Linked DNA regions of Homo sapiens. The protein of the gene in region 3 purifies or fractionates together with the protein of the main gene of each other region. This does not show direct contact. Each region holds a gene or a part of one and is shown on either strand. Other genes may lie near its edges.

The links. The genes of interacting proteins can lie anywhere in the genome.
Region 1: the proteins of UBTD1 (region 3) and ATG2A purify together in Homo sapiens (affinity purification with mass spectrometry; one large-scale study listed by BioGRID and IntAct). This does not show direct contact.
Region 2: the proteins of UBTD1 (region 3) and SHROOM3 purify together in Homo sapiens (co-purification; one study listed by BioGRID). This does not show direct contact.

The regions. Positions count from the first base shown.
Region 1 is NC_000011.10:64,914,396-64,918,752, forward strand, and holds the start of ATG2A (autophagy-related protein 2 homolog A), read right to left. Parts: upstream 2,815-4,357; 5' UTR 2,741-2,814; coding exon 2,570-2,740; intron 106-2,569; coding exon 1-105. UniProt on the Homo sapiens protein: Lipid transfer protein involved in autophagosome assembly. Tethers the edge of the isolation membrane (IM) to the endoplasmic reticulum (ER) and mediates direct lipid transfer from ER to IM for IM expansion.
Region 2 is NC_000004.12:76,742,666-76,746,242, reverse strand, and holds part of SHROOM3 (protein Shroom3), read right to left. Parts: intron 3,436-3,577; exon of another isoform or gene 3,343-3,435; intron 1-3,342. UniProt on the Homo sapiens protein: Controls cell shape changes in the neuroepithelium during neural tube closure. Induces apical constriction in epithelial cells by promoting the apical accumulation of F-actin and myosin II, and probably by bundling stress fibers.
Region 3 is NC_000010.11:97,505,381-97,508,957, reverse strand, and holds part of UBTD1 (ubiquitin domain-containing protein 1), read right to left. Parts: intron 1-3,577. UniProt on the Homo sapiens protein: May be involved in the regulation of cellular senescence through a positive feedback loop with TP53. Is a TP53 downstream target gene that increases the stability of TP53 protein by promoting the ubiquitination and degradation of MDM2.

The sequences.
Region 1 (4,357 bases), on a different chromosome or scaffold from region 3:
GTCGGTGAGCAGAGCAGCCCAGGGCACGGCCACCTCGATGGAGCCCACGAAGCCTTCCACCAGCTCCAGCGGTGACTCCATTGACTCCAGCACCTCGTTCACAGACTGGGAGCAAGCAAGAGACAAAACCAGCTCAGGGAAACCCCAAATCCCACAGGCTGGCACAGCCTTATCTGGCCATAGTGCCTTGGAGAGCACCCTTGGCTTGCCCTGTCCCTCCACGTGTTATCTACAAGGTCCCACCTATGCTCATGCTGTCCCCTACTACAGGCCAGCCCCCCTACCCCGTCACCCAAAGGTGCCTAATCCTTCAAGCCAGAGCAGATGTTTCCCTCACCACTTAATTCAAGATAATATTTACCGAGCACTTTCTACATGCTGACACTGAGACTAGATGGGTAAATAAAATGTCTTCATTCCCCAGCCAAGCTAGGCTCCAGCCAGGGACTCAGAGCAACTAGGATGAAACTCAAGAGGTGAGCAGGTGCTTGGGGGTGGTGAGGGGGCTGGTGGGGGGGCCGTGGGGAAGACGCCTAACCCAGCCTGGGCCGTCAGAGGAGGGGCAAGCTGAAGAATAAAGGGAGGGGGGATAGGCGCTGGTAGAAGGTGGTGTGTTGCAGGCACAGGACAACATGGGCACATGTATGGCAGAGTCCAGAATACCCATGTTCACCCTGGATGAGCAGAGTTCAAAGGGACAGTGTCCAAGAGAGGGGCTGACCTAATGCCAGATGGGACCCCCCCCCCCCACCACCAACCCCAAACACCTAGTGTAGCTGTGCCTCTCTGTGAGGCACAAGGCTGAGCCCCTGGCTAAAATGTCCATGCTGGAGTTGTACCCCTGCCAACCTGGAAGCTCCTGGAGGGCTGTACCCCACCTGCCTCCCCCGTCACCCCAGGTGCCACCCAGAAAGGGCCTCAGTAAACTGGTTGGATCCAAGAATAAAAAAGCACATGGCAGAGCAGATGGGAGTCCAAATTCCTCACCCAGAGACCCACAGCTCGGGAAACTGAGGCCTAGAGACAGGACTAATCTAGTCACCCAGTATACAACAGGGACTGAGACTGGGATGCGGGCCTCTTTCTTTTCATGCCACTTCAGAGGCCCCAGATACTCAGTTTCTTTGGGGGCCTTCAAGGCGGGGCCTGCAGGCTGAGCTGGGAGGGAGGAGGGGCTGGTTATCAAGAAAGCGCCTGCATTCCACCAGGGCCCTAGAGAAGCCAATTCAATCCCCAACAAGAGGGCAGGGAACAGGAGTAGGGGCGTTTTCTGGAGCTGAAAGTAAAAAGGGGAAGCCTAGGGCTGGGTATGGTGGTTCATGCCTATAATCTCAGCACTTTGGGAGGCTGAGGTGGGAGGATCCCTTCAGGGGTTCAAGGCTAGCCTGGGCAACATAGCGAAATCCTGTCTCTATAAAAATAAAAAAGGGGCAGCCTAGAGACGGCCTTAGAGGCTGAGGCTAAGGTTAGAGGTCAGAGAGGGCTTCCTACACCAGAATTCACAGACAGCAGGCCACTGGGGGGTGCCCCCAGTTCAGGGCCCACGATTATCCTACCCCACATTTGCTCACCAGGGCCTGGCCTACCCCCAAAGCCTAGCTCTTCTGCCCAGATTAGCAGCCCCCTGAGTCCAGCCACAAAACTGAGAAGTCCCTGCCTCCATGCCCACCCCTGCTGCTCTGGACCTGGTGGATCGACCAGGACGCGCCTCTAATTGGTGGCTCCTTCAAAGCTCCCCAGGTCAGCTGAGCTGTGAGTCAGGGCTCCTCACCGTTCCCAGCCTCAAGCCTCTGACCTTACACCTCTTGGCCTCCCTAGCATCTCCCTTGGCCTCCTCCCGGCTTGAAGCCAGATCTCCCCACCTTTCCTCCAGGGCCTCCCTCCAGGCAGGGACACTGAGCCGGGGGGGTCGGTGGGAGATGTAGGTGGGGGCCATCCAGTCCCTCCCTAGACACCCACTTGGCCCATCCCACTCTCCCAAAAGCAGGAAGTAGGCAGCGACCCAGGCACACGAGGTGTTGATCAACACTGGTACTGACGTACTGACGCGGTTGTTGACATACACATCCGGTGGTTTGTTGATCCCACCTACGGGCTCAGGACCGTGGGGTCAAGAGGTCAGGGCACATGATCCACAGGTGTCCTCGCCAGGGCTCCGGACCCCTACCAGCTTCCCCCACCAGCTGCGCAGGCCCAAGTCTGTCACTGCCCTGGCCCAGCTCAGTTCCTACGCTCCCTCCCCAGCCCCTCCTCAGCCCGAGAGCCAACCTCCTTAACTCAGCCCCCAAACTCGACGAGTTTGTCTTGCATTCTCCAGACAGGTGATCTTGCCCTCTCCAGCCTCAGTTTCTCCTCCCGTGGAGACAGAAACCCCTTCCCGCTCAGTTTCTGGCTCTGGTAAGGAACTGAAGAGGCCAGCCGGGGTGCCTCTGACGCCTGGAGAGGGCAAGATTCCCCTGGCCTCTCTACGCCCGGTGCCTGATCCCCCAGCCCGATCCTGCCGCAGGGAGCCTCAGGTCGCTGCGCTCCCACCCTCCGCACCTTCCTGGACTCGGGCCTGGCTCCTCACCCAGATTTCCAGGTGGATGTCTCGCAGGGCAACGCTGCCCTTGTACAGATCGAGGCTGAGCTGGTCCAGGCTGAGGTGCTCTTGGAAGAAGTGACCTAAGTAGTGGTGCAGCAAGTAGCGGCAGACCCGCTCTTTCACACAGTTTGACCATGGCCACAGCCATCGTGACATCTCGGAGACCGCCGGGCCTGGGCCGCCTCCGCTTGCCGCCCGCCGGCGATCCCCGTCCGGCTCCGCTGTTCACTAGAGCCCCCGGCTCGCCCCGCCGCTTCTCTAGGCGCCAGGCCGCGCCTCCGGACGCCCAGCCACGCCCCCTACGCTCACTGTCATTGGCTATTGCAAAGGGCGAGGCCTACTGATTGGCTGCGCGGGGCGGAGCCTTCGGGCGCGAAAAAGGGACTGGGCTCTCTGCATGATATAGGGCTCTCAATCATGATTTACGCTTGCGTAAAGTACTGTGTGGGAGGACCTTTAACCTCCCCTCTACAGGCTCTGGGAAGGCTGTTGCTCCAGGTGCCGGCCCCTCAAAGGAATGCGCATGTGCTGATTCGTCCAACCACTTTAAGTGGTTGGGGAGGATTTAAAGGGACAGTGTCCCATCAAACTTCGTAGAAGCCTTCCCCAGAGGAGTAAACTCAGTGCGCGATCTTAAGCGCGCATCTGTGGAAACAATTAAGTGAGTAAACATTCGCATTTTGCAAAATCTTTTACCATCCTTTATCTCATTGAGCCCTCTTAATAATCGCTCAAGGTAGGGATTATTGCCACCGCTTTACAGGTAAGAAAACAGATTAAGATACGAGAAAGACCCTGCCTCAAAAACAAACAAAAATAAATAAGGGCTCTGAATCCATCACCAAGGAAGGTCTTTTTTCCCCTCCTCACCCCGGAATGCTCAGAGGGAGATTAACTGACCCTCCCTTCTCTCTGCCGTCGGTCAGGCCTTAGGCACCTCTCTGAAATAATAATAGCTTTTCATATCTCTAGTCCTAAAATCAAAGAATGGATTCTGCCTCCTTTAAGCAGGGGGGCATTGTTTTTGTACGGCCTTTGAGCTAAGTATGGTTTTTATGTCTTTTAAATGGTTAGGGGAAAAATCAAAAGAAGAATGAACTTTTCATGGCATGTGAAAAATCATATGAAATTCACATTCCAGTGTTTATACATAACGTTTTAGTGTCACACAGTCTTGCTCATTTGCTTAAGTTCTGCCCCGGGCTGCTTTCTTGCTACAAGAGCAGAATTCAGTACTTGAGACAGAGGCCTGCAAAGCCTAAAATATTTATTTTCTGGCCCTTCACAGAAAAAGTTTGCCAACCGCTGCTCTGTAGGGGGCAGCCACACAAAACCTCTTACATCATGGGCGACTTCAGGAACAGCCATAGGTAATTATGTTTCTTTTCTTTTCTTTTTGAGACAGACTCTCTCTGTCACCTAGGCTGGAGTGCAGTGGCACAATCTTGGCTCACTGCAACCTCTGCCTCCTGGGTTCAAATGATTCTGCTGCCTTGGCCTCCCAGAGTAGCTGGGATTACAGGCATGCACCACCGCACCCAGCTAATTACCGTGTTGGGCAGGCTGGTCTCGAACTCCTGACCTTAGGTGATCAGCCTGCCTTGGCCTCCCAAAGTGTTGGGATTACAGGCACGAGCCACCGTGCCCGGCCTATGTTTCTATTTTATTTATTTTTTTTGAGACAGAGTCTTGCTCTGTTGCCCAGGCTGGAGTGCAGTGGTGCAGTCTCCTCTCACGCAACCTCTGGCTCCTGGGTTCAAGGAATTCCTGAGT
Region 2 (3,577 bases), on a different chromosome or scaffold from region 3:
GGATGATATTTTCAGATATAGAACATTTAACTCTTGCCTCTGTTTCCCCATTCCCAGCCTCTTTTTATTCAGGAGATGGCATGGTATAGTGACTTAAAGACTCTGCAGTCAGACAGTATGGGGTGAAAACCTCACTCTACTACCTTGGGCAAATTTTGTACCCTCTTGGTGACTTGGTTCCTTCTTCTGTAACTTAGAGATAATAATAGTATTTACCTCATTGCACAGATGTGAGGAATAATTTTATTTTATTTTATTTTTTGAGACAGAGTCTTGCTCTGTTGCCCAGGCTGGAGGGAAGTGGCGCTATCTCAGCTCACTGCAACCTCTGCCTCGTGAGTTCAAGCGATTCTCGTGCCTCAGTCTCCCAAGTAGCTGGGACTACAGATGCACACCACCATGCCTAGCTAATTTTTGTATTTTTAGTAGAGATGGGTTTTTGCCATGTTGGCCAGGCTGATCTCGAACTCCTGGCCTCAAGCAATCTAGCCACCTCGGCCTCCCAAGGTGCTGGGATTACAGGTGTGCACCACTGCACCCAGCCAAGACTAATTTTATACTTATAAAACACAGTACAATGACTGGCACACAGCAAAAATTTGATTATTGTTAGCTATTTGTATCTTCACATTTTGTGGAAAGTCAATTCTATTTTGTATAAGCTTAAATGTGTGCTTGTAGAAAGGTGCTAAAAAAGACTTATGAGTTGCATTCCACAGAATCAAGCCTATATCCAATACTGTGGTTCCATGCATTGAGCAATTTCCTCAGCAATTCAGTAATGTTTGTCACACCATCTCATAGTGATTATGTTACACATCAGACATGAAGTTCCCTGAAAATACTGTGAGAACCAGAGAAGTCTCTAACTCAGCATCCGGGGGAAATATCCCCACCAGTAATCTTATTTCTCCAAGGGTTTCTCTTTATAGTCTCTACTATATTTTAAATCTATGCAATGAACAGATATACATTTCTGTCTCTAAGGCAGAAATGTTGGCTATCTTTCTATAGCTTTGCAGGTCCTACCCACTTTTAACAGGTTAACTTTTCCAAGGTCTCACAGAAAGAAAGTGGAAACAGGCAAGAGTCTGATGTGCACTTAAGCTCCATCACTAATATCTATTTGTTCTGCAATGAAGAGGAATTAAAGGAGAGGAAAATAGAAGGTTGCATGTTTCAGAGAGGATTTCAAGCTGGCTGAGGAGAGGCCAGACCTGCCAAATACATGAGAAGGTCTCAGGCTACAAGTAGTTCAAAATGGTAGCCTCCTGCAGTCATTATTTCAGGCCAGAGATGGATCGATTGTCACATACAGAGGAACTGATTTCCATGATGACTTTGTTTTTGGAGGCAGAAAGGCCTCACTAATGAGAATTTTGAAAAAGAGCTAAATCCTTGTCAAAAACTTGTAAAATCCTGCCCTGTCAGCATCTGACTGGTAAGAGCAAGCAACATTTGTTGGAGATAGCATCAACTAAGCCAGCAGCAGAAACACACTCCACATTGTGGTTTTAACTCAGGCAGACAGTCTCTACAAGTTCACTTAACTTGTCAGAATTCTCTAAAGCAAGGATGAGAAAAATGATTGATTAACAAACCTTCCCAAAAGCTTACTGATAATGTTCTTGAAATTTATTCAATAGGAAAAATATGTATATAATAACCACAATAGTTATGTGGTGAGAGTAACTTTGTTTTATTTTTTACTCATCATAACTACAAATAAGGCAGATGATGAAGAGGATGCAAGGAGCAGACCGCCTTGCCATGAGATGCTTCTCCAGTCAGCTAAGGTCTGGCTGCTGTGCAGGAGACCAGGAGAGGGAGGAAGCTCAAGAATGCAGTCCTGGCACAGTGACAATATAAGAGACTATGCATTGTTCAGAAATTTCAGTATTTGTTGGAGCAAAGCAGTACAAAAGAAGTATTTCATTTGGAAATATTTCCCTCTCTGCCTGCATATTCCCCAAATTAAATAACATCTAAATATGGCATTCCCTTTATGAAAAGGGTGCCCAAGTACTGTTTTGTATTCACTTGTCTTTCTAAAAAGTTTTCCAAATAATACAAAGTATTTAATTGGGATTTGGAGGAATCTCTTCACTTCTCCCAACGCCTATGTTTTAGCTTTATTTCTTAATCAACCAGGCTTAAGAAATATTTGGGGGGAAAGATAAAATAACATTCATAGCCATCCAACCAACCTCTAAGACAAAATAACAATATCTAATGGGGAATAAACAATAATGATTTGGTTTTCACCTAAGCATTTTTATTTTCTTTGAAACACGGGGAGAGAAAGGAAGGTGTCTAGACTGCTATGCAGTTAAGTTGCTAAAATCCATCAAGCTAAATGAAATTGTGTGTTACATATATGGATTTTAAATGTGTGTTAGTGGTAGGATAGGGAGTGGGAATTAGCTCTGTTCATTCTGAAGGAAGGAAAAGGCTACTGAAGGCTTATGGGAAGTTGCCTCTATATTTGTCGGGGATTTATACTGGGAGAAAATATTTCTGTACAATTCTAAACAGAAAACATCTGGGAGGGGACGGTATTTTCTCTCAGAAGGAAACAGGCAAGAGTCTGATGTGCACTTAAGCTCCATCACTAGTATCTATTGTTCTGCAATGAAGAGGAATTAAAGGAGAAGAAAATAGAAGGTTGCATGTTTCAGAGAGGATTTCAAGCTGGCTGAGGAAGAGGCCAGACCTGCCAAATATATGAGAAGGTCTCAGGCTACAAGTAGTTCAAAATGGTAGCCTCCTGCAGTCATTATTTCAGGCCAGAGATGGATCAATCGTCACATACAGAGGAACTGATTTCCATGATGACTTTGTTTTTGGAGGCAGAAAGGCCTCCCTAATGAGAATTTTGAAAAAGAGCTAAATCCTTGTCAAAAACTTGTAAAATCCTGCCCTATAAGCATCTGACTGGTAAGAGCAAGTAGCATTTGTTGCTGTATGCGTGTGATAGAGTGCAGCAAACTTCTCAGCCAGAACTGCTGAATCTTTCTTTGTCTGAACTGGTTTCTTCCCATCAATGCATCCCCTCTCCCCTAATCTCTTGTCATCATGCCCATCTTTTACATCCTGGCCCAAAATCCCATTTCCCTTCAGGAGAAGCACTTTCAGATCACCTCAGAATTAATCACTTTCCTTTCCATAGCATATTATTGATCACTATTCCCAAAGCATTCACTAGTCATATTAGATTTATACATATAAGGTCGTATTCCTTGCTTAACTGTGAACTCCAGAAAGGCATGAGCCTTATTTTTTCCTTTTGTGTATCCTTTGATGCTGTAACACAGCATTTTTCATACAACACATGCTCTACAGATGCTTGCTGAATGGCTGACTTCTCTGAAAGGGAAAACAGCAGAATCTGAGAGGGGAGAGTGGAGCGGAGTTCTTCCTCCCCTGTGCTAACAGGTATGTGATTCCTATTATTGTCTTTGGTGGGAAGGGAAGCATGAGGCAGGCCCCTGGTCTACAGTGGAAGTGAAGCCTGAGGATAGGCTAAGAATTAGGGAAATTAACAGGCTCCTAGGAGTCAGAATGCTCAGCTTCTATT
Region 3 (3,577 bases):
TTCAAGTCCCTGGCATCTGGGTGTTGGAAAGCGGAGGTTTGCTCTGGGAGAAGGAGGAGGAAACAACAATATTTGCATTCTACTTGTGTTTCTCTTTAGGAACACAATCTTGGCTGAGATTCTATTGCCTCTAGCACACCGAGCCCTCAAACAACATTCAACGCATATTTATTGAGCACCTACTATGTGCCAAGCACTTTGATCCAAGATGATGGACTCACATGGCTTCTAGGTGTGGAGGTGGTGGTCTGGGGGTGGGGAAATTAAAGGAAGAAGGGACAGCAATGTGAAAGGAAAGCAGTGGCTATAGTCCTTGGAGTTTTGCAGACTTCACAGCTGACCTACCAGCTTCTTTCCATGGGGGTGGGGTGGGAGCTGGTCAGGGCTCACAGCACAATGGAACGAGCTGTGAGCACTGGAATGAATCAACATCCTCAGGCTGAGTTCCAGCTCTGTCTCTTAGCATCATAACCACTGGCAATCCATTCATTTTCCTGGCCATCAGCTTTCCCATATGTAAAATAGGTAGGCATGTTCCCATAGGTAAAATAGGGAGAATCAAATGAGATGATGTTTGTGAAGGGATCCAGCAAAGTGGTGCCTGAAGGTGCTCAATAATAAACTCATTAAAAAACAAAACAAAACAAAAAAGCGTTCTCTTCTTCCCATTCTCATGAGGACAAACTACACACTGGCCCAAAGCGTGGGCTCTGAGATCAGACACCTGGGTTCCAGTCCCAGCTCTGCAGTTTACAAGCTGTGTGACCTTAGGCAGCAGACATTACCTTTCTAAGGCTCAGCTTCTTCATCTGTGAAAAGGTGATAACAGAATCCACCCATAGGGTGGTTGTGAGAATTAACCCAAATACTGCACGTGATGCTCCTAGTACATGGCAAACACCCTGCAAAGGTGAGCTGCTGCTAATTACATCTCTCTGAGCCTTTAAAAACAACAAAACTCCAAGTGCGCAGGCTGGAAACTAAGATTCAGGCTACTTGGTTAGTGACTGGCTGCCTAGGCACCATTCACCCTTTGCTCCTTGTCCCAAGACTTCCAGAGGAAAAACATACAAACGAGGAGTCATCCCTGTCCCTTCAGTCTCCCTCCCCACACCTTGCAGAAGGTGTTCCAGCCCCTTTCCTGCCAGGTTCCTCTCTTTTTTTTTTTTTTTTTTTTTTTTTTGAGACGGAGTCTTGCTCTGTCGTTAGGCTTGAGTGCAGTGGTGCAATCTTGGCTCACTGCAACCTCCGCCTCCCAGGTTCAAGCGATTCTCCTGCCTCAGCCTCCTGAGTAGCTGGGATTACAGGCACGTGCCACCATGCCCGGCTAATTTTTTTTGTATTTTTAGTAGAGACGGGGTTTCACCATGTTGATCAGGCTGGTCTCAAACTCCTGACCTCGTGATCTGCCCGGCTCAGCCTCCCAAAGTGCTGGGATTACAGGCATGAGCCACCGTGCCCAGGCCAATTTTTTTTTTTTTTTAATAGAGACGAGGTCTCACTATGTGGCCCGGGTTTTTCTTGAACTCCTGGCCTCAAGCAATCCTCCTGCCTTGGTCTCCCAAAGTGCTGGGATTATAGGTGTAGGCCACCATGCCCAGCCTCTATGCACAATTCTAACACACTCAGATGTCTGTTTTCCCAGAGATTTGGAGGGACTGCTCTTTGAGCCCAGCATAAATGATCACTACATGATAAACCACTTCACACTCATTAGGATGGCTATTATAAAACCAATCCAAACCTAATCAACAAAAAGCAGAAAATAACAACTGTTGGTGAAGATGTAGAGAAACAGGAACTCTTGCACCCTGTTGGTGAGAATATAAAATGGTGCAGCTGCTGAGGAAAGTGTTATGGGGGGTTATTCAAAAAAGTAAAAATAGAATTACCTTTTGATCCAGAAATTCCACCTCTGGGTATATACACAAAATAACTGAAAGCAGAGACTCAGAGAGCATTCACCTTTTGCTCCTGGTTTGCACACCCATGTTCACAGCAGTATTATTTACAATAGCCAAAAGGTGGAAGCAACCCAGGGGTCCATCAATGGAGGAATGAATAAGCAAAATGTGGTATATACATACAATGGAATATTACTCAGCCTTAAAAAGGAAGGACATTCTGACACATGCTACACCATGGAACCTTGACAACATTATGCTAAGTGAAACAAGCCAGCCACAAAAGGAGAAATACTACATGATTCCACTCATATGAGGTATCCAGAGTAGTCAAACTCATAAAAGAGAAAGCAGAATATCAGTTGCCAGTGGTTGGGGGGATGAAGAAATGGATAGTGCTTAATGGGTAAAAGAGTTTCAGTTGGGGAAAATGAAAAAGTTCTGGAGATGGGTACTGGGATGGTTGTACAACAATAAATACAAAGAATGTACTCATGCTACAAAACTATAGACTGAAAAATTTGCTGTTACATACAAGTAAATTTTATGTCATATCTAGGTAACCACTTAAAAAAAAAGAAAAAGGAAAGAAAAAAAAGAGAAGTGACTACTGTCTACCAGGCAGAAGACACAGCAATGATTGTAGGTGGAAACATGAACCCCCAAAGCCCAACAGCTGGGAACCACGTAGTTTGGGGCCCACTGCCCTAGAGTCTCACAAGCCCCGTGGCCTCACACTACTATAAGCACAGTAACTGACCGGGTAGGACTGGCTCTTCCCACTCAGAGCCTTGAACAGGATTTAAGAGCCTTCCTGCAGTGCCAGTGTTGCTACTTGGAACCTTGAGGCAGGGCACTCCCGGAGTGGGCTCTCCCCCAGCAATTTCCCTCTGCCCACCACTAGGTCCCTCCCCCACCCCAGGTCTCTTCTTTGGGAGGTAACACTTTTGAGAGAAAGAACCTTTTGTGGTCCCACTCTCACCAAGCAGGCGCTCTGTACACACCGGTATGAACTCAACAACCCCTAGTCCCAAACCAGAGGTTCTTTCTGAGCTGTATATTAATATTTTGCTCAGAAGCATATCATTCGTTTCAGAAAGATTCCCATCCAAAAATAGTTTTTAAACATTTCTTTTATAGTTTTGCTCCTTAAAAAAGAGTAAGCTTCAATGATCTAGTGGGAAAAATCACTGGCTATGGCTTTTGTGTGTAAAAATCCTGGTAGCTTGGAATAATAGAAACTTTCTAAGATCACAAAATCTCTTTTCATCCAGGGTCTCACTTTAATCTTACAACCTCTCTGAAAGGTGATCAGGGTGGCAGTCACCTCATGGCACAAATGGGGAAACTGAGGCTCAAAGAGATCAAGAGGCTTGTCCAAAGTCACACAAACAACTAGGAAGGAGCAGAGACCCCAGGCTTCATTTTCCACCAATGCCAGATGAAACTCTGTGTTGGGACCTCATATCTGAGCACACTGTGTAGCCATGAAAGTAATTTTTAAACCACCATTAGCTTATTTTATCTCCATAACATCTCTGTGAAGGAAACTGGAAATATTATCTTTTTAAAACGGGGGATCAACTGAGGAAGAAACAAATGACCTGCCCAAGATTACCACTCAAGAAAGTGGCAGAGACTAGACCTCCTCTCCTTTGAATACACTTGACCTC